Linked DNA regions of Homo sapiens. The protein of the gene in region 4 purifies or fractionates together with the protein of the main gene of each other region. This does not show direct contact. Each region holds a gene or a part of one and is shown on either strand. Other genes may lie near its edges.

Region 1 (6,584 bases), on a different chromosome or scaffold from region 4:
AATTCCTGGGCTCAAGTGATCCACCAGCCTTGGCCTCCCAAAGTGCTGGGATTACAGGCATGAATGAGGTGTCATTTTTACTTTGAAGATACGTGTTAAGTTTTTTTCTTCACTGACCTAGTAACACAATACACTTAATATGGCATGAGTTTTGGTTGCTGGAAAAACTGGTTAAAGTTTGAAGGGTCCAGAAGTGGGAGAAAAAAAACTCACTTGCCAAATGTGTTGAGTCAGCATTAACTAACACTTTAGCATAAAAGGGCAAGGTTTAGGATGAGATGATTGAAATGAGAAATGCTTTTTTTCACTAGGTACTTGGAAATTTTACTTTAAAAAAAAGCCTACTCAGACCATTGGAGAGATTTAATTAGTAAATCATAAATGTTGGCAACAAATTAAGTAGGTTTAGAAGGAAGAAGTCATTTTTTTAAAAGATGAGGAAAAAATACATGTGACTTTTGTAATTTATAAATAAAAACATCTTATTATTTATTTATTTATTCTTTTTGAGACAGAGTCTCACTCTGTCACCCAGGCTGGAGTGCAGTGGTGCCATCTCAGCTTACTACAGCCTCTACCTCCTGGGTTCCCGCGATTCTTGTGCTCAGCCTCCCGAGTAGCTGGGACTGCAGGCGTGCACCACTGTACCTGGCTACTTTTTGTATTTTTAGTGGAGACGGGGTTTTGTCACGTTGGCCAGGCTGGTCTCGAAATCCTGACCTCAGGTGATTCACCTGCTTCAGCCTCCCAAAGTGCTGGGATTATAGGTGTGAGCCACCGAGCCTGGCTAAAATATTTTAAATCTTTCAAAGATATGTAAAGATGTTACGTGTTTTCTCAACCTAAAAATAAACTTCGCTGGCCAGACCTGGTGGCTCATGTCTGTAATCCCAGTACTTTGGGAAGCCAAGTCAGAAGGATCACTTGAGGACAGGAGTTTGAAACCAGCCTGGGAAACACAGTGGGACTCTGGCTGTACGAATTTTTTTTTTGAGACAGAGTCTTGCTCTGTCACCCAGGCTGGAGTGCAGTGGTGCGATCTCGGCTCACCTCAACCTCCGCCTCCTGGGTTCAAGCGATTCTTCTGCCTCAGCCTCCCAAGTAGCTAGAATTACAGGCGCCCGCCACCATGCCCAGTTAATTTTTGTACTTTTAGTAGAGATGGGGTTTCACCATGTTGGACAGGCTGGTCTTGACCTCCTGACCTCAGGTGATCCACCCACCTCGGCCTCCCAAAGTGCCGGGATTACAGGCATGAGCTACCGCGCCTGGCCCAAAATTTTTTAAAGTAGCTGGGTTGTGGTGTCTTTGCCAGTAGCCTTAGCTGCCTGGGAGCCTGAGGCAGGAAGATCACTTGAACCCAGGAGTTCAAGGCTGCAGTGAGCTAAGACTGTGCCACTGCACTCCAGCCTGGGTGACAGAGATAGACTGTCTCAAAAAAAAGAGGTAAGTAAAAAACGCTTCTTTTGCTTCCTTTTAAGACTGAACACTTTTTCAGTTGTTTAGTTTTGAGGTTTAGTTAAATAGGTTCACTAACTTGAGCTGTAAAAACACTAATGGAACTCCTTTTACTTTGAGTTGTACAACTGTATAATCATTTATATAAGTTAGCTCTTTCAACCAAATACACATTGAGTATCTCTTATCTGAAATGCTTGAGACCAGAAATGTTTCATATTTTGGATTTTTTCAGATTTTGGAATATTTGCGTTACACCACTTGTACATCCCTAATCCTAAAATCCAAAATCTGAAACACTTGCAGAGCATTTTTTTCTTTTCTTTTTTTTTTTTTTTTTTGGTTACGGAGTCTCGCCCTGTCGCCCAGGCTGGAGTGCAGTGGCGCAATCTCGGCTCACTGCAAGCTCCGCCTCCCGGGTTCATGCCATTCTCCTGCCTCAGTCTCCAGAGTAGCTGGGACTGCAGGCGCCCGCCACCACGCCTGGCTAATTTTTTGTATTTTCAGTAGAGACGGGCTTTCACCATGTTAGCCAGGATGGTCGTGATCTCCTGACCTTGTGATCTGCCCGCCTCAGCCTCCCCTGCTGGGATAACAGGCGTGACCCACCGCGCCCGGCCTTGAAGAGCATTTCTTCAAGCATCATGTCAACAATCAAAAAATGTCAGGTTTTGGAGAATTTCAGATTTTGGATTAGGGATGTTTACCCTATAGTGTTTACCCTGTAGTGTTACATCATCTGTTCTATGACAGTCTTAATTTTAACCCCAAATTTTAACAGATTATGAATGAATTTACGCTTCAATATTTCTCTCAATGCTTAGTTAAGTACTGTACATACTCACGTAAGTGTACATAGGAATTTTTTGTTTTTACTAAAGAGAGATCATATTATTTATATTACTCTATGACACGCTTTTTTTTTTTTTTAACATGTCATGGTCAGTAAATATAATTCTTTTTTTTTGTTTGTTTGTTTTTTTTGAGATGGAGTCTTACCCTGTCACCCAGGTGGTGGGAATCTCCGCCTCCTGGGTTCAGTGATTCTCCTGCCTCAGACTTCAGAGTAGCTGGGATTATAGGCACCTGCCACCACACCCAGATAATTTTTGTATTTTTAGTAGAGATGAGGTTTCGCCATGTTGGCCTGGCTGGTATCAAACTCCTGACCTTAAGTGATCTGCCTGCCTTGGCCTCCCAAAGTGCTGGGATTACAGGCATGAGCCACCGCGCCCAGCCAATATAATTCATTTTTGTTTTGTTTTTTTGAGACGGAGTTTTGCTTTTGCTGCCCAGGCTGGAGTGCAATGGCGTGATCTCAGCTCACCGCAACCTCCGCCTCCCAGGTTCAAGTGATTCTCCTGCCTCAGCCTCCCGAGTAGTTGGGATTACAGACATGTGCCACCATGCCCCGCTAAGTTTGTATTTTTAGTAGAGATGGGGTTTCTTTCTTTTTTTTTTTTGAGACGGAGTCTCGCTGTGTTGCCCAGGCTGGAGTGCAGTGGCGCGATCCCAGCTCACTGCAAGTTCTGCCTCCCAGGTTCACGCCATTCTCCTGCGTCAGCCTCCCGAGTAGCTGGGACTACAGGCACCCACCACCACGCCTGGCTAATGTTCTGTATTTTTAGTAGAGATGGGGTTTCACCATGTTAGCCAGGATGGTCTCCATCTCCTGACCTCGTGATCTGCCCACCTTGGCCTCCCAAAGTGCTAGGATTAAAGGCGTGAGCCCCCGCACCCGACCCGAGACGGGGGGGTTTCTCCATGTTGGTCAGGCTGGTTTTGAACTCCCGACCTCACATGATCCTCCCACCTTGGCCTCCCAAAGTGCTAGGATTACAGGTGTGAGCCACCGTGCCTGGCCAATATAATTCTTTTTTTTTTTTTTTTTGAGATGGGGAGTCTTGCTCTATCACCCAGGCTAGAGTGCAGTGGTGCGATCTCGGCTCACTGCAAGCTCCACCTCCTGGGTTCACGCCATTCTCCTGCCTCAGCCTCCCGAGTAGCTGGGACTACAGGCGCCCACCACCACACCCGGCTAATTTTTTTGTATTTTTTTTTTTAGTAGAGACAGAGTTTCACCATGTTAACCAGGATGGTCTTGATCTCCTGACCTCGTGATCCACCTGCCTCGGCCTCCCAAAGTGCTGGGATTACAGGCGTGAGCCACCGTGCCCGGCAATATAATTCTTTATTATTATTTTTTTAAAAGATGACATTTTGCTATGTTGCTCAGGCTGATCTCGAACTCCTGGGCTTGAGCAATCTGCCTGCATCGGCCTCCCAAAGTGCTGGGGTTACAGGCGTGAGCCACCGCACCCAGCCAATATAATTTTTTATTATTATTATTATTATTATTATTTTTAAGATGGAACCTCGCTCTGTCACGAAGGCTGGAGTGCAGTGGCGCAGTCTCGGCTCACTGCATGCTCTGCTTCCTGGGTTCACGCCATTCTCCTGCATCAGCCTCCCGAGTAGCTGGGACTGCAGGCACCTGTCACCACACCCCGCTAATTTTCTGTATTTTTAGTAGAATTGGGTTTCACCATGTTAGCCAGGATGGTCTTGATCTCCTGACTTCATGATCCGCCTACCTTGGCCTCCCAAAGTGCTGGGATTACAGGTGTGAGCCACCGCTCCCAGCCTATTAGTTTTTTAATAAGAGATGAGATATAGCTGTATTGCTCAGGCTGGTCTCAAACTCCTGGACTTGAGCAGTCTGCCTCCTGTGGCCTCCCAAAGTGCTGAGATTACAGGTGTGAGCCACTGCACTCAGCCCACAGTAAATATAATTCTATCTTGTTCCTTTAAACAGTCCTATTGTGTCTTATAGCGTGGATGTACCATAATTTATTATTTTCCTGTGGACATTTAGATCATTTCTAGATTTTTGCCACTTAACAAAGTGCTACAATAAATATCCTTGTACATGCCGCCTTATATGCTGATGCTTTTATTTCTGTAGTCTCCAAAGGGGGAATTCTGGGTTAACAGAGAAATATATTTTAAATATTATTATTGCTAGATTACTCTCTAAATAGGTTATCATAATTTTCATCCCAAATAGCAGTAACTTCTCCATATCATGAAACCACTGGGTATAAATACATAGTTTAATTTTTACTAGTCTGCTAGATGATAAATGGGTCATGCAGTTTGTCTTAATTTTAACTTCCCTGTTACTGGGGCTAGCCTTATTTGATACGTATAATAGCCATTGGATTTCCTTTACCGAGAATTGTCTGCTCATGTCCTTGCTTCATTTTTCTTTCTCTTTTTTTTTCCTCCTGTAGGAGCGCTTATGGAATGTTAATTCTTTGTTATATGGCACGTGTATTTTTCTTGTCTTTCATTTATCCTTTTTTTTTTTCCTGGGAGACAGAGTCTCACCCTTGTCGCCCAGGCTAGAGTGCAGTGGTGTGATCTCGGCTCACTGCAGCCTCTGCCTCCTGGGTTCAAGCAATTCTCCTGCCTCAGCTTCCTGGGTAGCTGGGATTACAGGTGCCCGCCACCATGCCCGGCTAATTTTTGTACTTTTAGTAGAGACAGAGATTCGCCATGTTGGCCAGGCTGGTCTCAAACTCCTGACCTCAGGTGATCTGCCTGCCTCTGCCTTCCAAAGTGCTGGGATTACAGGCGTGAGCCACCGCACCACGCCCGGCCTCATTTATCTTTTAATCTTATTTATGTCACAGACATTTTCAGGTAATTATATATATCCCTCTTTTCCTCTTTGGTTTCTGAAACTGTCTTAGAATCCATTCCAGCTGGGTGCAGTGGCTCATGCCTGTAATCCCAGCACTTTGGGAGGCCGAGGCTGGCGGATCACGAGGTCAGGAGACTGAGATCATCCTAGCTAACAAGGTGAAACCTTGTCTCTACTAAAAATACAAAAAAATTAGCTGAGCGTGGTGGCACGCGCCTATAGTCCTGGCTACTCGGTAGGGTAAGGCAGGAGAATTGCTTGAATCTGGGAGGCAGTGTAGAGACACAGTCTCACTGTATTGCCCAGGCTGGTTTCTAACTCATGGCCTCAAGTGATCCTCCCACCTTGGCCTCTAAAGTGTTGGGATTACTGGCGTGAGCCACCGCACCCAGCCTTAACAGTTTTTGATGATAATTTTTCCTTGCTGTAGTGTGTGTCTGTTTGTTCAAGTTTATTTTAGGTCTTTCAACAAATATTTTATAGATTTCGTAGTTTTTTTCGTATAGTTCCTATACCTTTCTTACTAAATTTATTCCTACGTATTTTATTTTGACACTATTGTCAATGGGACTGTTTACCCTCCATTTCTAACTAGTTAATATCAGATACATTAATTAAAAGTAAATATTATACCATCTTTAATTTTCTTTGGACAACTCCCCCACTCTCCTTGTATATCCAGAATTAATAGAACTTGGATTCATGAAGAATATGCTAGGGAAAATTTGTCATCTTAGTATTAAGTAACTTTTTTTTTTTGAGACTGCGTCTTGCTCTGTCGCCCAGGCTGGAGTGCAGTGGCACGATCTCAGGTCACTGCAATCCCCGCCTCCTGGGTTCAAGCGATTCTCCTGCCTCAGCCTCCTGAGTAGCTGGGGTCACAGGCGTGCACCACTGCGCCCGGCTAATTTTTGTATTTTTAGTAGAGATGGGGTTTCACTATGTTGGTCAGGCTGGTCTTGAACTCCTGACCTCATGATCTGCCTACCTCAGCCTCCCAAAGTGCTGGGATTACAGGGGTGAGCCACCGTCTCCGGCTATATTAAGTAACTTTCTAATGTTTCTGCTTGTCATCCTAGGGAAGAGTACACTTAGATAAGTTTTTCTGGAATGAATGACACCTTACTAGGTTTGAAAGTTTACAGTTGCTTTATTTATACGTTTTTGTTAATTTGTTTGCTTTTTTTCAAAGCAAGTTTTATTCCAAGTTTTACATGCTCATTACTTGAAAGATAGCAGACTATATATAGAAGTTAAAAAGGCATCCATATTTACATCAGATAACCTCCTTCAACATTAATTATACCCTTTGGGTCATGTCTTTAAGCCAAATTTTCGTTTTGAGAATTTGATGATACTTCTTGAATTGAGAGTACTTTAGTATGGTTTTGCTAATAAGATTATGGTTGGGAGAATGAAA
Region 2 (5,331 bases), on a different chromosome or scaffold from region 4:
AGCCAGTGCCAGAGTGGGTGGTGGGCATGATGGGGGCTCTCCCTAGGCTGCTCCCAGCCTGGCTGTGCAATGTTGGCAATTTCTGCTCCTCCTGCCTGCTCCCCTCCCCATAGAGAGAATGGAAAGGAGAGGAGAGAAGAGAGCTGAGGTGGCCACGCTGGCGTGGGGCTCAGAGGGAGGTGATGTCATTGAGTGCGTTGTCCAGTTCCTCGCTAATGGCCTTGTACTTCATCTTCTGGGCATAGACTTCATCTGGGGGGGGTCCAGGGAGGGGACCAGGTGGGAGTGTGGGAAAGGGAGTGGAGGGAAAGAGGAAAGGAAGGAGAGAGAGCAATGGAAAGAAAAACAGAATCAGAGGTACACAAAGACAGAGTGAGAGAGGGAGGCCAGGGAACAGGCTGGACAGCTGTCAGGAACTCCTTCTCCCCATCTCTACCCCATCTCTTTTCTGTCCTTCTCTGTACCCCAAATTGGCTCTACCCATGGCAGCTCCTGCCTCTCCAGGGAGCTGTGTGTACAATGCTCTCGACAAGCAGGAGTGCTTGCTTAGAGGGGAGAGGGAGGGTGCTGGAGCCAGAAAGGGCAAACCTCCTAAAGCTGGAGGTAAAATTGGAGCTTGCCTGAGAAGGCTGGAAGCGAGAGAAGTGGGAAAGTGAAAGGGTTATCACAGAATAAAAAGGAAAGGCAACTTTAGCCACATCATCATTAACAATAGAAATAGCCACAGACTCACAAATATCTGGATGTTTGCTTTTGTCAAATCTAGCTTAAAATAGTGTTTTCTATTAGTGCTGTCATGCAGACCTAGATGTTCAGTCCAACAGCTCTCTAGTTAATAAGCCAGTCTCTGCACTAGAACTCTACTGCGTTACACTCGGGGACGGAATTGTCTATAAGGGTGCCACTCAGAGTGTGGCATGAGGACCAGCAGCATTGGCAGTACCAGAGAACTAGCTAGAAATGTAAATCCTCCAGCCCAAAGTCAGCAATCTCTTTGGGGCAGAGTCAAGGAATCTGTTTTTAAAACTCTCCCAGTGATTCTCATGCATGCTGAAGTTTGAGAAGCACTGGAGTTGTTGCGCCGTGGGCAGCTACAATTACTTGAATTGTAGACATGGCCCACAGAGTTGGGGAGTTGGTAGGGTCCTAGGTGGCCCAACCCTAGTTTATTGGTGGCAAATAAAATGGGATGAGAAGGTACAGGACAGACTGATAATCACGGCAGGTGTGGACCTACTTATAAAGGCTTCTTTTACCTTCTAGGTCATCGATGGTTTTCTCCAACTTTGCCACAGACCTCTCGGCAAACTCTGCTCGGGTCTCAGCCTGGGGGTAAAGGCAGGATGGGAGAAATGGCAAAGAATTAGGCCCTCCCACAGACTACTGCCTAAGTCAAGCTTCTTGTCCATCCCAACCCTCAAGTGTCCTGCCACAGGCCGTCTCTGGCAAGGATTAGGGTGGCTTGAGGGGAGACTGGGAACTGGAAGAGGACTCTCACCTCCTTCAGCTTCTCCTCCAACAGTTTGATCTCCTCTTCATATTTATCTTCTTTGGTGGAATACTTTTGGGGACACACACACGCCATCAGTACAGCGCTACCACAGATCCTTCATTTCTCCATTGTACCCCGTAGGCTCCTGGTCATCTTGCCTCCGTTGAACACCCAGCCCCTCCCTGCCTTGGGCCCCTCACCTCCCTCCCCTGTGGGACCCCATCCTCACTGCCCCTCTGCTCCCCTCTACCTTGTCCGCCTGGGCCTCCAGGGATTTCAAGTTGTTGGTAACAATTTTCAGCTCCTCCTCTAGGTCCCCACATTTACTGCAGGGGGTGTGTGGCGGGGGGGGCAGGGTGTGAGGGCACAGCGAAGCCAGACAGTGGAGATGGCACAGCAGGGGACGGGTGGAGGAGAGAAGAGAAGAGCAAAGTTGTGAGAGTGACAGCAGGCAGGGCTCAGAAGCCCCAGGCCCTTCCTGATCCCCAGCAGCTGAGAAAGAGCAGCCTGCGGTGCTGAGACGGAGGGAAGGTGAGCTGAGAGAAGGCGCCATTGCCCAGAAAGGTTCAGAGGGGTCACTACCTCCTCCTCTGAGGCCATCAGGGACTTGAGGGCCTGGTCCATGGTTCGAAGTTCCTCCTCCAGCTGTCTGGCTCGGCTGGGGGCAGCGGGCAGGGGTCAGAGAACAGGGCCTGTCCCTACAGCCCCAAGCCTAGGATGCTACCTTCCCACTGTGTGGAAGGCCCCAGGGCCAATGGGCTCACTTGTCACCCCCGGGTATCTTTACCTCTCGGCCACCTCAGCCCTCTCCTCCGAGCGCTCCAGCTCTCCTTCCAGGATCACCAGCTTCCTGGCCACCTGTGGGGAGTGAGAAAGAGAGGGTAGATCAGTGGAGAAGGACTGGGCATGTTGCAGGCTGGGCAGCGAGCAGGCAGAGGGGCAAGGCTGTCACCTCTTCATATTTGCGGTCTGAATCCTCAGCGATGTGCTTGGCCTCCTTCAGCTGCATCTCCTGCAGTTCCATCTTCTCCTCATCCTTCATGGCCCGGTTTTCGATGACCTTCATTCCTCTGAAAGGCAGGGAGAGGGTGAGCGTAGGGTCAGGACCAGCAGAGACAGGCTCCCTTCTCCCTCCCGGACCATCCTCCCCGAGGCCCCTGACCACCTCTCGCTCTCATCAGCCGCCTTCTCGGCCTCCTCCAGCTTCTGCAGGGCTGTAGCCAGGCGCTCCTGGGCCCGGTCCAGCTCCTCCTCAACCAGCTGAATGCGGCGGTTCAGGGAGGCCACATCTGCCTCAGCCTGTGGGTCAGAGGTCAGGGGTCAAAAAGGCCTTGTTAGCCTTGGATAAGGATCAGAGAGGCTCCAGAGGATGGCGAGATTCTTCTCAGAAAGAACTGAGGCTTCCTGGTTTCTAGACATTCTATGTGATTTTTCCCCAACCAATCATCTTCTGCCCAGACTGTGCTCCAGTAAAAAATGTGCATTCAGGCCGGGCATGGTGGCTCACGCCTGTAATCCCCGCACTCTGGGAGGCCGAGGCGGGTGGATCACCTGAGGTGAGGAGTTTGAGAGCAGCCTGGCCAACATGGTGAAACTCTGTCTCTATTAAAAATAAAAAATTAGCCAGGCATGGTGGCGCATGCCTGTAATCCCAGCTACTTGGGAGGCTGAGGCACAAGAATCACTTGAACCCAGGAGGCGGAGGTTGCAGTGAGCTGAGGTCGTGCCACTGCACTCCAGCCTGGGTAAAAAGAACGAAACTCCATCTCAAAAAAACAAAAAAATACATGCATTCCTTGCTTGACAAGCTCCGCTCCCCTGCTGCAGGGCCTCTCCTGCACTGTGCACAGTTAGTCTCCCAAAGGTCACCTGCACACAAGTCCTCCTGTTCCCTGTGGGAGCACTTCAAGTGCTGGGGCCAGGTCTGATGCAGCTCTGATTCCTACACAGCAAAGCCTGGCCCAGGTAAGGGGATGGGAGGAGAATCAGGCCAACCAGACATCACTGCTGCTAAGAATAGCCCGTCACAGAATCAAGCTCAGTGATACTGGGCATGGTGGTGCATGCCTGTCATCCCAGCTACTCCGAAGGCTAAGGCGGGAGTTCAGCTTGACCCCAGGAGCCCTGCCTGGGAAACATAGCAAGATCCCATCTCAAAAAAAAAAAAAAAAAAAAGTATCAAGTTCAGTGATGTCATCTGTCATCAGCTGTAAGGCAGACTCCCAGCAAGAAGCCCAAGAGGCAGGCCTATAAGGAATACCCATGGCTGTAGCAAGGGGCTCCCTGCCAAGGCCAGCAGAGAGCTGGGGGCAATGCAGGGGCAGTGTGAGGGATGTCTACTCAGCCCCTGGGCTTGCAGTAGGAGGCAAAACCATGGAGGTTTTGGAAAAAATCCATAAAAACTGGTCAAACACTGAGAAAAAGGGCAGAGCAAGGCGAGCGCCAGTAAAGGAAAATGAGAGGAGCAGGGCAGCCACGTGTTAAGAGCATCGGCTCTGAGTCAGATTGTCTTTGAGCCACGGCTCAGCCACTCAACACCTGTGTAACTGTGGGCAACTTATTTAGCCTCTCTAAGCTTCAGTTTCCTCCTTCACAAGTTGGAGTTAACAATAACAGTTCCTCCTTCTTAAGGCTGTTCTGAGATAATCCACTGCTTTTAATACTCAGTTAATCAACAGGACCTTCGGTGAGACTCATAAAACTAAACAGGTTCTCTTACTCCATGCTAGATCCACTGAATTGGGATGTGTAGGGCGGGGGCTTGGGAATCTTCTCTTTTTTTTTTAAAGCCCCCGAGTGATTCTGATGATAAGCCAAGTTTGGGAAATTGTAAAATAACATGCAGAAAGCACTGAGTACATTGCCTGCACAGGGTCCACATTCCATAAATATTAGGTTATCCCCTTTCTCTGTCAAAAACAAGGACACAGAGACCCTGAGATTTCAGAGTGGAAAGGAGAGAGGACCTGTGTAGGGAAAGGAGGTGGGGGGAGGGGCTGGGGGCAGCACTTGGACACAGCATAGGAAGCAGGTCCTTGGTCGGACTGTAGGGCAGGAGAAACAGCACCATATATAGAGAGTAGATGGTAGCTTGTCTTCCAGGTGCTGAAGGCACCTGGAGCTTGGCCACCTAGAGTGACAAGAGCCCATCATGGGCACAGGGCCGGATGACAGTGTGGAAGCATTCTGGGGACAGCATTGGGGGTTGGGAAGAATCACTGTGGGGGACATTGGAGTACTACCCTAGAGAGAGGTGAGACTGTAAAAGAAAAACTCTGCATGATGGTGGGGTGACAAAAGACTCTGGAAAGTTTGGGAAGTCCTGGGGTCCTCATCATGGGACTGATATGTGCCATTTCCTGCCTCTCAAGCTCTTCCCAGTTACGGGGGCGGCTCTCTAACCACAGGACAGGCACTACTGTCCCCATTAGAAAAATGGGAAGCAAGAGAGAGGGAGAAACTGAGGCACCATGTAAGTTGAGTGCTGTGTTCAAGGTCACCAGGAAGCTTGGGCAGTCTTTCCTATCTGCTCCTGGTGCTGCGGCTCTGCCTCCCCAGCTCTGTCCCTGTCCCCCCTGCCCCTCCAGCCCCCACCAGCAACTTGGGTTTCCAATCTTGCCTCCAGCTGCACTGGGCCTTGGTTATTTATAGAGTGTCAGATGCCCAGGGTTGTCTGTGCTAGCAGCTGCAGGTCAGCTCCCTCCCAAGTGCCAGGACTGGTGGAGAACCAAAACTGGAGGCTGGAGGTCACAGAAGCCCAACCCCTGGGGGGCTGGGAACATGAGCAGTCGACACAAACAGCTATGTCATCTCTGATGTTCAGACCATGCTTTATGCTA
Region 3 (6,046 bases), on a different chromosome or scaffold from region 4:
GCTTGAACCTGCCATGCACAGAGGTTGGCAGTTTTTAGTTGTGAATGTAGACAGTACATGGGTAAGGCAGAGCAGCTCCGTGTCCTCCTCTCAGCATCGTAGTGTCTCCTGGTAAGTTTTCGTGTGTCCTCTCCATGCCTCACCTTGTTCATGTGTGTGTGTTCTGTTTCCTGTTTCAGGAGTCTTGTGGATACCGTATATGCATTAAAGGATGAAGTTCAAGAATTAAGACAGGTACGTCATAATCCATCTTTAAATCTTTTTTTTCTTTTCAAATGGGAGAAAAGAAGAAAATTACATTAAAAATAAGCTGGCTGGGTACGGTGGCTCACACCTATAATCCCAGCACTTTAGAAGGCCGAGGTGGACAGATCACCTGAGGTCAGGAGTTCAAGACCAACCTCACCAACATGGCAAAAACCCATCTCTACTGAAAATACGAAAATTAGCTGGGCATAGCGGCAGGTGCCTGTAACCCAGCTACTTGGGAGGCTGAGGCAGGAGAATTGCTTGAACCTAGGAGGCGGAGGTTGCTGTGAGCCGAGATTGTGCCACTGCACTCCAGTCTGAGCCACAGAGCAAGACTCCGTCTCAAATAAAAATAAAAAGCTGATTGTCCATAAGCAAAAAACTAAAAGGAGGTCATGTCTTTGAGAAGTCCAGCAGATAAAATAATTGGTTGTCTCTAAAGTGACTTGTTTAAACTCTTTTTTTTTTCTTAACAATACTGATTTTGATGTCATAAAACATCGCAAATTCTGTTGGAAGAATAATTTAAAATATCGAAAGTTCTGTCTGGTGACAAATCCTGCGAGGCGCCCCTGAGATTAGCCTCTGCCACTGCATGGTCCTTGGCTCCCGAAGCCAGGTTAGCGAGCCAGAAGTGGCGACTAACCAAGGGTGTTCTGGGTATTGCACGGAATGTGAGTATGAGCAGCTTTGGTCCTCTGCCCAGCTAGGCGAGGGAAGGTTGGGGTGTTCATTGCACGGAATGTGAGTACGAGCGGCTTTGGTCCTCTGCCCAGCTAGGTGAGGGAAGGTTGGGGTGTTCTTTTGGCCGAGGAACAGCCTGAGAAGAGTTGTGGTCTGGGATAGAGAGCTGAGAGCAGGTTGCTGTGTGGAACTGGACATGTGCTGTCATTCTAAGCAGTGTCCGCAGGTCTTCCAGGTACACCTTTGCCTGGCTGGCAGGCTTCCATGTTCACGCTTTGCCCCTACCGGCAGCAGGCATCTGTTTGTGCATGCCTCCTACGTCCGAGACATGCCTGGGTTCAGCTGCACAGAGCAGGTGCTCGCCCACTTGCTCCTGCACCTGTCAGTGGCTGTTACTTCCAGTCCTTTCTGTAACTCTGGAAGGTGGTTATAAATGGACAAAAAGGCTGGATAGGAGCTGTCTCGTCCGCAGTTTCCAGCTATTTTCTTACGGTATGTTCTATAGAGATTCATTCATGGACTTAATAAGAGCCATTAGGACCATTTCCATCCCGGGAACAGCAGCACAGTCAGGAGCACCGCTGCCACCCTGTCCAGGTGTTTGACCTTCGTGGATCCCCACGACCTCAGAGCCCATAGGCAGCTCACGTGGGATTTCATGAATCGAGGCCTTAGCTCCTCAAGGATACACATTTGGGGAAAGGAAGCCCTACGCGATGCCAAAGATAGTGAACACCCTGTGGTCTGCTTAATTTACAGGACAACAAAAAGATGAAGAAATCTCTAGAGGAAGAACAGAGAGCCCGCAAAGACCTGGAGAAGCTGGTGAGGAAAGTCCTGAAGAACATGAATGATCCTGCCTGGGATGAGACCAATCTATAAGGGATGTCCTCAGTTCTTTCTGTTGAAGACCAGTTCTGAGGTGAAGCTGGGCACCCCTGACCCAAGTCGGGGTGCACTCAGGACCACAGGGCAGGGCTGGGTGGGGCGCCACCTTGCTCTCTGTATATAGAAAAGCTGGAGCTTATTCTGCGAATGGAGACGATCAAACCATGACTGATGAATCCAGACAGGAGGGATTGACTCTGAGGACCTGAGCTACATCAATCCACTCTGTGAACATCTCAGTTACCTCATTCTGCAATAAGTTCAGTGACTGACTAAAAGTCTTGTTTTTCCAGACTTTGAATTGAATATATAAATATTATATATACATGTTTCTTGTAAATATCCCATTTTGAATGCATACCTGTGGTGGTTCTGTCCGGGCTAATCCCCATGCTAGAATGTCCTTTCCAGCTACGTGAATAAGAAGTCCCATGCCCGCATCCACCGGAAGCAGAAGCCTGGTGGATGCCTGGTTCGTTCCGCAGCACCAGGGCCTCCACCGTGCTGTGGCAGCACCCCCCATGTCGGTATTTCTAAATAACCTTATTTATACCTGCAGAGATACACTTCAGTCCCATTCAGAAGTCTTCTCTTAAAGCAGCATTACAGTCCCAGACCTGCGGGTTTCTGAGGGCAACTTGCTGGCTGACAGACTCAGTCTTGACCTCAAGGAAGGCCCATACGGCACTGCCGCATCCACCTAGAGGTGTTTGCTCTTGTCCGCTGTCTGAGTACTGTGATTCTCAGATGAGTTTGCTGCGTTTTGGGAGGACACAGACGGTTCTGTATAGGCTAGTTCAGTAACAACAAAATACACTGTTTTGTCTTCCCTCAAAGAGAGATCTTACTAGAACCTGTAAATAGAATGTATTATTTATTATAAGTCACTGCAGCTGATGAAAACAGATGGAGGCCATGCTGCAGGCTGATACTGATGGGTGGAGTTTTGTCATCAGGCCAGCCTCATCCCGAGGTCTCCTCCACCATTGGCCGTAGCCAGCAGGCTTCAGTGCTCACCGAAAGTAAAATCCCCTCCTTCAGCAAGAATAAAGCAATATACACCTTAGGTTCCACTAAGTAACATAGGCATAAGCAGGGAACGTTTCCCCCACTGTGTTCCAGTGCAGAGGAGACGAAGCCTGTCCTCACCGCGGCTCGCTGGGCCCAGGCTGGCTCTGGAAAGCCTGTGCGGTCCTGGGCAGGAAGCCCGGCCCGTGGAGCAGGTTTTCGTTCTGCTTCAGCAATAAATAAGGGTGACCACAGGGACTTTGCTTTTGGTTTCCTTTCCTGTGAAAAGGTTGGTTTTAAAGTGAGATACACTTTTCCGTAGAACAAGTGTTCTATCTTTAAAAACCCAAATTGCAGCACCGTGGATTACTGGTCTCAGAACAACTCATTGCGCATCAGATTTGACTCTCTGATTTTCTGTCTATTGGCCAAATTGCCCTTTAACTGCACCTGAATCCTTTGTGTACTGATGCCTTTGAGCTGGGCACCTTGGGAGAGTGTTGTGTTGCTGTTTACGGTTCTTCCTTGCCCTTGCTAATTACAGTCTCTGGTGCCCAGCAAGCCCCTTTGGCTTCCTTCCGTGACTGGTCACGTTGTCTGCCTGGGCTCAGCGTGGACCTGCCCCATGCTGCAGAACCTGGCCTCACCTGGACTTTTCACTAGAATTGCCAGCTTCCTCAACTTAGCAGATCATTCACTCATGCGGGCACAAGCAAAGATCAACACTTTCTTTTTTGGTAAGCTTGAGTTTTACAAGTTATTTTTTGGTGATGCGTAAGACATTGCAGTGGGAAACCATTCAACTTGAGTTTATTGGAGTTTGCTGTTGTAGCAGGTTTTAACTCAGGAACAACTCTTGTCTGATCTCTCCGCCCCTCTGCCGGGAGGCGACATTAACTGTCCTCTCGGAGCCGGTAGCGTTGCTGTCCGAGTCCCCAGGACGGATCTCCTGCAGACCTGCCTTAATGCTCAGATCGAAGTATTTCACAAGAATACTTGTGTTTTTAACAGCCCTTCCCCTGGACGGTGCGGCCATGAGGGCCTCATGTTACGGCATTGCCTTTTCTTTCTGTGGATCCAGTATCTTCCTCGGCTTTTTAGGGAGCAGGAAAAATGCGTCTGAGAGCAACTCTTTTTAAAAACCTGCCCTGTTGTATATAACTGTGTCTGTTTCACCGTGTGACCTCCCAAGGGGGTGGGAACTTGATATAAACGTTTAAAGGGGCCACGATTTGCCCGAGGGTTACTCCTTTGCTCTCACCTTGTATGGATGAGGAGATGAAGCCATTTCTTATCCTGTAGATGTGAAGCACTTTCAGTTTTCAGCGATGTTGGAATGTAGCATCAGAAGCTCGTTCCTTCACACTCAGTGGCGTCTGTGCTTGTCCACATGCGCTGGGCGTCTGGGACCTTGAATGCCTGCCCTGGTTGTGTGGACTCCTTAATGCCAATCATTTCTTCACTTCTCTGGGACACCCAGGGCGCCTGTTGACAAGTGTGGAGAAACTCCTAATTTAAATGTCACAGACAATGTCCTAGTGTTGACTACTACAATGTTGATGCTACACTGTTGTAATTATTAAACTGATTATTTTTCTTATGTCACAGAATGTGTCGCTTCGTCTTCTTTGATGTGTTTTCTGTGTGCTTGTTAGCTTTACAGTTTCTTTGGGCTGTTTTAGATTTGAAAATTCTGTCTGTCTTTGATACTGAAGATAACATGTTTCCTTTAAAGTCTAGAGTTTGAGAAAATTTGAAGATTTTTTTTTAAAAGACAAGGAAAGAACACTGGAAGTCTTAGGAACAAAAGCTGAAGTAACAGGTCACGCTGGTAGGCACAGCCCCCAGGTCCTCACCCATGCCTGGAGGAATGACCTGCATTCTGGAAGGCGCTCAGGACACCGTTTTGTGGGATCAAGTAAGCGAAACTTTCTTGAAGATATCTGTGGGGTCCCTTTTAGGAGCTGTCATAAGACAAAAGGAAATTGCTCGTGTGTGTCCCTGTGTGGCGGTGGTGCAAACGAGGGTGTCTTCCGGAAGGGTGGCCGGGAGGACCAAGCGGGGTCTCCTGTCCATGGTCCGTGTACCTGGCTCAGGTGTGTCTACAGCTCCGCTGCATGTCATTTCAGCCAGCCAGAGGTCAGGTAGCCACACGCAGTGCCCAGCCCACTGGCTTATTGTAGGAGCTCAAAAGAAGTCAGGATCTACACTTTCAAGGACTTTAGTCATTTCAGGTTAAAACAAGTAGGCGTTCAAAAACCCATTTCTGTTGATTTGCATTGTGACAAGAACGTGCGATGCATAAGACACCTAATGTGAATTGTTCATCTTACTGGTGGAGTAGGTAGGCATTTGTACTTGATACCTCACCAGTAATTAAAAACTAGGATGTACCTGAGCCATGTATACCGTTTTTTAACTGTACACTTTTTAAAGGTATACTGGGCCATGTATACTTCATTTTCTTGCAGAACTATTTATATTTTTCCCATAAGCAGGTATTATTTTCCTAATTAAAAACTAGCATGTACCAGAGTTTTTAATTGTTAAAATAATACCTGTTGATACGGAAAATAGAAACAGTATACCAGGATACAAAGTAAAAAGCATGTATTCTGCCTCCCAGCGCCCTGACCCTGTTCCCCAGAAGTAGCTCCTGTTCTGCGTTTAGGTTCTTCTGTTCATTCTTCTGAGCAAATGCCAGTGTGTGGTGTCTGTGTTTTAACTTTTTTCCCAGCAAGTGAGATTGCATTAAGTATATTCTTTCCTAAGTTGCCTCTTTGAACCTTATCTTTCCATATGGGTATATGTAGTTTGAACCATTCATCATTTTTGACCACTGCATAAATATTCCCCTGATTGAGTGCCCTGCAGTTTGTCACCTATGAGTGGATATTTGGGAGGGGGCAGTCGCTATTGCAGAAATGCTCTACTGAATATCCTTATGTATACAGCTGTGCAACTGTGCACATACAGCTAAATGATTAACTTCTGGAAACGTTTGTGCATTTTTAACTTTGATAGAATTTGCCATATTTTTACAAGGTGTTTTGGAAATGACAGCCTTGGCAATTGTACAGTTCTAGTTTCTCAAAGAAGGAATGGGGCCATGATGGCATGGGAAGCATGCTCTTCGTTGTGATGCTTTCCCATGGAAGCCGTTGACTCCGAAACATGCTCTTCGTTGTGATGCTTTCCCATGGAAGCCATTGATTCC
Region 4 (6,584 bases):
TTGGCTTAATCAGGATGGCAGGTTTAAACACTAAAAACCATGGAGTTATTAAGAATACAGATAGGAAATCTCTTAGTTTCAGTAATCCTATGAACTGATTATCTATCTAGTTAACAATCTGGAAAAATTAAATACAAATAGATTTTAAATGAATAAATGTTGGAAAAAATTCTTGAAATGGGCAGTGTGAGTATTAATAGCAATATTTATTGCATGTTGGAGCTTGAACTTTGGTAAAACATGTGAAACTAAAGAAATATTTTACATTCAAATTCTTGCTTTATACACAACAATTTTGTCTTAGGATTGGATAATAATAGAGATAAAAGATACAGCCCCTGCCCTCAAGAAGCTTTTTGTTTAAATGAAAAAAAAAATCATCCAAAAGTGCCATGCCAAATGCTCATTTAGAAACAAAGAGTCTTGGAAACAGTAAATGTTTAAAGTGAGTTTTTGAGATGATCAGATTTAATGTGGTGAGGCAGAGAAGGGATGTTTCCAAGGGAAGGAGTGGCATGTGGGAAAGTACAGAAGAGTGAGAAGGAAGCGACCAAATTTTATTTACTTTCTGTGAGTGTAAGTCCATAAGCTTCCAGTTCAGTTGAGAGATACATAATTTTTTGAATTACATATTGTTTTTGTTTTATATTGTTTTACAGTGTGGCCTCACACCACTTTTGCTTGGCGTACATGAACAAAAACAGCAAGTGGTGAAATTTTTAATCAAGAAAAAAGCTAATTTAAATGCACTTGATAGATATGGAAGGTATGGTTATTTCTTTTAATCTGTGTGTTGTTCTAGATTGATAGCAGTCACTCAAGTCATAAATAATAAATTAATAAGATCAAATTATACTTATTGGGACATAGTGATCAGTATCAACACAAATCAGTTAAGTAGAAAAGCAATTATTTGGACTGGGCAACATAAAGAACTGTTTTAGTAGGATTCATCTTCTCTTATTATATTGACTGATGTTATTTGTTGTATGATGTTTTTGGTTACATGATCTTATGTTAGCTAAAGGGATTTCATATTAATTTTATGAAGTTTGAACTTTAACTTTCAGTTTACTTTATGACTCAGTATTGAACTTTTTAACCCTTTCTAGTAGGTTTTAACCTCTGTATCTTATATGCTTTTCCACTAAATATGCTGTATTAAACATAAATAGGAGTTGAAAATCCTTTTGTCTTTTCAATGACTCTGCTTTAAGTTGCTTTCTTTGAAGAATATTAATGTTAGCTTATCCCTACATGACAATTAATTGCTATTCCCACATACTGTGGGTTCAACAGCTTTTTTCCTTTTTTATTTCCAGTGTATTTTGATGTTTTTATTTTTAGTTGGTATGGAGAGAGGGAGTGAAGATAGTTTTAAGTGGATACACTTTTCCTTTAATGAAGGCAAGCTGTAGGTGGGTGACAAAGAGAAAAGAGCTACGCTTTGGATTCACACAAGACTGGGTTTAATTCCTAACTTTCTTACTTGCTACGTGTGTGACATTGGGAACGTGATTTACCACCCAATATGTTGTCATATGTGAAAAGTAGGAGAATATATCCTTCAAAGTTGGCTGTGCATAAGCAAGAAAGATACATGTGGCATTTAATTCAGTGCGTAGCACATGCTTATTGGCATCATTAACTGAAACTCCTGTGACTACTATTCTTACCATTATTATTAATATTACTGCTTTCAGCATGCAGAGAGCTCTTATTTATCTTAGCCCCTAGCTAATTTTCTATCACAGCATATCAGTCTAGGGAAGCTGTGACAAAATCTTCACTTAAATCTTTGTCCACTTCAGATAAGTGGCCCTAGCATTGTTTCTTGCCCATCAAAGGACTTTAAATTAGTAGCTTCTGCTATGCAATACCCCACTGAGATAAGAGGTTTCCTTTTTGTCCCTTCCTTTTAACCTTGGTGGTATTTTACAAAGATGAACTCTTGAGCACCCAAGATGCTTATGTCTTTTAGCGCATGTAAATGTTTGATTCTGCATGGACAGGCAAGATGTCAAATTGGTAAAGTATATCAAATTAGCTTTTAAAATAACTTTATTACAGTTTCTAAAGGAGAAATTATCTCTGTAATTTTAGAACTGCCCTCATACTTGCTGTATGTTGTGGATCAGCAAGTATAGTCAATCTTCTACTTGAGCAAAATGTTGATGTATCTTCTCAAGATCTATCTGGACAGACGGCCAGAGAGTATGCTGTTTCTAGTCATCATCATGTGTAAGTGTTTACATGAAAAGGCTAGTTAATGCTAAATTGAGGTTTAAAATAATTATAACAATTGCATCTTACATATCAGGTGAGATGTCATAGTTTGGTTCAGGTAGTTTTAGAGTGGCAGTGAGTTAGTCCCCTGCATCAGCCAGAAATCAGACAAAAAGCAAGACAAGTTAGAAGTACCAATGGGTGCAGGATTCTTTACCTCAGGACTTTTAAGACCTTTATCCTTAGAGATCCCAATATTGTTCATTTCATCCAAGTATAACACCTATGCATGGCATAAAAAAGAGTATCACATCTTTGATTTTTCTGATTAGTTATTTGGGTCTTGAAATGTCCAGTTTAGCAGAAAGCCTTGTACTGTCTTCTGGGGACTGTCTCCTACATACTCCTTGAATTTTTCAAGAACCAAAGGGGTTCACTAAATCCAAGGAAGACAGTCCCTTTTATCAAGTCAGAAGGAGGAGAGAAAAAAGGACATTCCAATCATTCTGTTGTTTCCATTGTTTCTGTTGCTGCATTGTTGCCACTCAAACTGCTTCTGCTGCCTGGTAATTGTTGACCTTTGACACCAAGGTGCCCTTACTGATTCAGATCCCTCAAGTCTTCATGGGGATTCACACAGTGACTTTGAAGTTACAACATTTTTTAGTTCCCTTACCTATGCTTATATGCTCAGCCATTGTTCCCAAAGCACCAGCACCCTGCTCTGGCCGCTGGGCATCCTGACTTTATCCGCACACAAAGTGAGCAAATTGACCCTTCCTCCTGTATTCAGAACCTAATGTGGAACCCACATCTTAGCTAAGAATTAGCTGAGACCTTCATGGTAAGAGATCCTTTCAGGCCGTTGTTGGTCTTTTCTCTAGCAGATATGAGGTGGGCTTGTTATAAAGGGTCAGAGGGGTTCAAATAATGTGGCAGAAAGAGATCAGTGTTTGTTTCTTCTTCTTTGCTACCAGATCTACACAGTGAGGCACCTTTATATCCTGTGTAGAACCTTAGGCAGTAGAAAGTCCCATATGAGCCTTCCCCAAGCAGTGGCTCCCAGCTGTGGTTGGCCCCTTGAGTGATCTGATTTACATGATAATGAAAATCGTCCAAGCTACTTCCATCTCTAGCTCAAGATTTTAAAATATTTTCAAATTGTACCTCACAGGAAGCCATTGAAGAGAATTCTCAGAATCTCACGTGGGTTAAGTAAGTAGTGATGAGTCATGGACAAGAGCCAAGCCTTGCCCATGACTCATCACAAATCATGTGTAAAAGTAGGGCTTTGTGCCTGCTTTGGCGGCACATATCCTAAAATTGGAACAATACAGAGAAAGTTAGCACGGCTTCTGCATAAGGAGGCAGCACAACTCTTTGAAGCATTCCATATTTTGTGCAGTCACTGGAAGATCATTTCACTATTTGCTGGCTAGCTCTAAGGAAACAGTGTGAATCAAAGCAAAATGGGTGCCACCAAAATATCGAAATGTGATTTGTGCTGCAAAAATAGTCATGGAAGATGGTCTGTGAGATGATTTAGAGCTGAATAATGTGTTCAGTGCAAAATATATTATAAGTATGTACGTCAAAAATTAGAGAATGTCAATTTGCAGCTTCTTCATGAAAACTGAAAAAAAATAAAAGTAGAGTTTTGGTCTCCCATGTCAGCTGGAATTGAACATCAATATAAAGCATTATCCTAACAAACATCTGCTGGCTCAGAGTTTGAGTCTGTAGAGAAGGATCATTGCTCCAAGCCAGGTCTTAACATCCATTGGTTTTTCTGCCCTTAGCACAACAAATTGGTCAACTCCGTAATAGTGGACAATCACATTATCTACTTTAATGAGAGATTTATGAAAAAATTTAGTTACAAACTATGACACAGTTGAGATGCCCTGAATGATAAGCCATAAGGAGTAGGACAACTAAGAAGCAAAATTAGGACTTAATAACATTTCCTGAAAACTACAGCATTTGCATATTAGAACCTATGAACAAAATACACATGGGGTTTTATTTGGGATTCCAAGATAATTTTAGTCATAAAGTTTAGGAACAGATTATTCCATTGCTTTACTATTTCTCTGAGCATTTAAAAAATGTTACCTTGTTAAATCTTTATAACAACCTAGTGAAATAAGGCAGCAAAGTCCTCACTTTGTAGAAGAAGACATTGAGCCTAAGAGAAGAAAGTTGTCCAAGAACAAATAGCTGTTCATTATGGAGCTAGGACTTATGCAGAGTTGGGACACTTTCTATTATGTCATGCTAATGCCTGCTGATTTACTGGGTCACAGTGCCCTTGATTTATGAGCATTTCACCTAATTTTTTTTCTTCTTTAATTAGAAGCTTAAAGAAAAGTTTGTAGAATGTACTCATAAGTGTATGGGATAATACTGTTAAATTCTGATATTATGATATTGTTTGAAATACTCTAAGAATCTTACATTTGGTAAGTATTTTTTATATCAGTATTAAAATAGTAATTTGGTTTATTACATTTTTATACATAGAATTTGTGAATTACTTTCTGACTATAAAGAAAAACAGATGCTAAAAATCTCTTCTGAAAACAGCAATCCAGGTAAGACTTGTGATAATGAATTACTTTAGGTCAGTTGTCCACAATGTTTTTGGCATCAGGGACCGGTTTTGTGGAAGACAGTCTTTCCATGGGCTGGGGGAAGGTGGGGATGGTTTCAGGATTATTCAGCCATGTTTCATTTATTGTGCTACTTTATATTATTATTACATTGTAATATATAATGAAATAATTATACAACTTACCATAATGTAGAATCCGTGGAAACTCTGAGCTTATTTTTCTGCAACTAGATGGTCTCATCTGGGGGCAAAGTGAGACAGTGACAGATCATCAGGCATTAGTTTCTCATATGAAGCACACAACCTAGATCCCTCAGATGAGCAGTTCACAATAGGGTTCATGCTCCAATGAGTATCTAGTGCTATCACTGATCTGACTGGAGGCAGAGTTCAGGCGGTAATATGAGCCATGGGGTGTGGCTGTAAGTACAGGTGAAGCTTCCCTGGTTTGCCTGCTGCTCACCTCCTCCTGTGTGGTGTGGTTCATAATAGTCCATGGACTGGTACCAGTCTGTGACCTGGGAGTTGTGGACCCCTGCTCTGGGTGGTCCTACCGTAGATAAAAAAATAAAAGTAAGGAATTTTTGATCACAAAAGAACGCCAAAGCACAAGTCATGTTACATATCCTTGTCCCAACAAGGTCTCACTCTTACTGACTTCATTCCTCCTCATTTGAAGTTGGAAAGAGATACATTTACTTTGTTGGAACAAGATGTGTTCTCTACCTGCTGGTCAATTGTCTTGATAACAGTAATTTTGTTAGAACAAGATGCTCTGCTACCATTTACCAAAAGATTGTCATAATAAATATACAAATTGCCCAACTCTAGGCTCAGCAGATTATAATAAAAGTAGAAAAATGCTTCACATTAACAAAAATACTAGTATGCCACCTGGTTGTGGACACCTAATACATTGTATAATCCAAACTGGATGAGGACACCTTTAATTTAGCCATCTATTTATCAAAAAGCTTCTGTAAGTTAGGTTTTATAAGTTGCAGAAGACAAAGATGGAATAGATGTAGTTTTGATCTTTAAGGTGCTCATAATAGAGGTGTCTCTATTTCATTTCTGTGCTTTTTCAACAGAATTTACAAAGAAAACATTTCTATGTTTTCACTTGTCCACTTAACAAATAACTATCAAATGTCTTTTAGATACTAATCATTTTTCTAATGCTACAGAACACACACAATTAAAAATACAGACAGGAGCTTGTTATTATCATTGTCACTTTTATTATTTTACTACTTTATTCAGTGCTTACTGTGTGCTAGATGCCAACTGGAAGCTTATAATTATGATTTATTATGTATTAATTATGTGCCAGACATACGTGATGAGGAATGAAAGTTTTGAAAAAAAGTAGGTATGATTCAAAGTAAGCATGCAGAGTGAGAAGAATTTTTCTAGGTAAAGAAGCAGAAGAATAATTTTTGGCAGAAGGAACATGCAACAAGTTTGTGTGTTTGCCAGAAGAACATCTGATGAGATTGCCTGTTTGGCAGGAAGAGCAACAACTGCAAAAGACAGGATGCCGAGTGAACTTTGCAGGGTTTCTGAGCAGTTCACTTTTGCTAGTACCAAAAGTGTGAGACACCAGAGTTTGGGAATGAGGTGAATACTTAGCTAAGGCAAGTTTATGATAGACTTTTTTAATACTATAGAAATGAGTAGGTCTTACCCTGTGGGCCATGGGAAATTTACCAGGTAGAATGCTTTGGACTGTAAATACTAGATG

The links.
Region 1: the proteins of POTEB3 (region 4) and AP1G1 purify together in Homo sapiens (co-immunoprecipitation; 2 studies listed by BioGRID and IntAct, with this or other methods). This does not show direct contact.
Region 2: the proteins of POTEB3 (region 4) and TPM2 purify together in Homo sapiens (affinity purification with mass spectrometry; one large-scale study listed by BioGRID and IntAct). This does not show direct contact.
Region 3: the proteins of POTEB3 (region 4) and ARHGEF7 purify together in Homo sapiens (affinity purification with mass spectrometry; one large-scale study listed by BioGRID and IntAct). This does not show direct contact.

The regions. Positions count from the first base shown.
Region 1 is NC_000016.10:71,797,138-71,803,721, reverse strand, and holds part of AP1G1 (AP-1 complex subunit gamma-1), read left to right. Parts: intron 1-6,584. UniProt on the Homo sapiens protein: Subunit of clathrin-associated adaptor protein complex 1 that plays a role in protein sorting in the late-Golgi/trans-Golgi network (TGN) and/or endosomes.
Region 2 is NC_000009.12:35,682,990-35,688,320, forward strand, and holds part of TPM2 (tropomyosin beta chain), read right to left. Parts: intron 2,792-5,331; coding exon 2,658-2,791; intron 2,563-2,657; coding exon 2,445-2,562; intron 2,351-2,444; coding exon 2,280-2,350; intron 2,151-2,279; coding exon of another isoform or gene 1,819-2,150; coding exon 1,743-1,818; intron 1,562-1,742; coding exon 1,499-1,561; intron 1,327-1,498; coding exon 1,257-1,326; intron 253-1,256; coding exon 170-252; 3' UTR 1-169. UniProt on the Homo sapiens protein: Binds to actin filaments in muscle and non-muscle cells. Plays a central role, in association with the troponin complex, in the calcium dependent regulation of vertebrate striated muscle contraction.
Region 3 is NC_000013.11:111,301,299-111,307,344, forward strand, and holds the end of ARHGEF7 (rho guanine nucleotide exchange factor 7), read left to right. Parts: intron 1-179; coding exon 180-234; intron 235-1,692; coding exon 1,693-1,815; 3' UTR 1,816-4,434; downstream 4,435-6,046. UniProt on the Homo sapiens protein: Acts as a RAC1 guanine nucleotide exchange factor (GEF) and can induce membrane ruffling. Functions in cell migration, attachment and cell spreading. Promotes targeting of RAC1 to focal adhesions. May function as a positive regulator of apoptosis.
Region 4 is NC_000015.10:21,425,921-21,432,504, reverse strand, and holds part of POTEB3 (POTE ankyrin domain family member B3), read left to right. Parts: intron 1-659; coding exon 660-766; intron 767-2,103; coding exon 2,104-2,241; intron 2,242-3,519; exon of another isoform or gene 3,520-3,626; intron 3,627-4,749; coding exon 4,750-4,820; intron 4,821-6,256; exon of another isoform or gene 6,257-6,477; intron 6,478-6,584.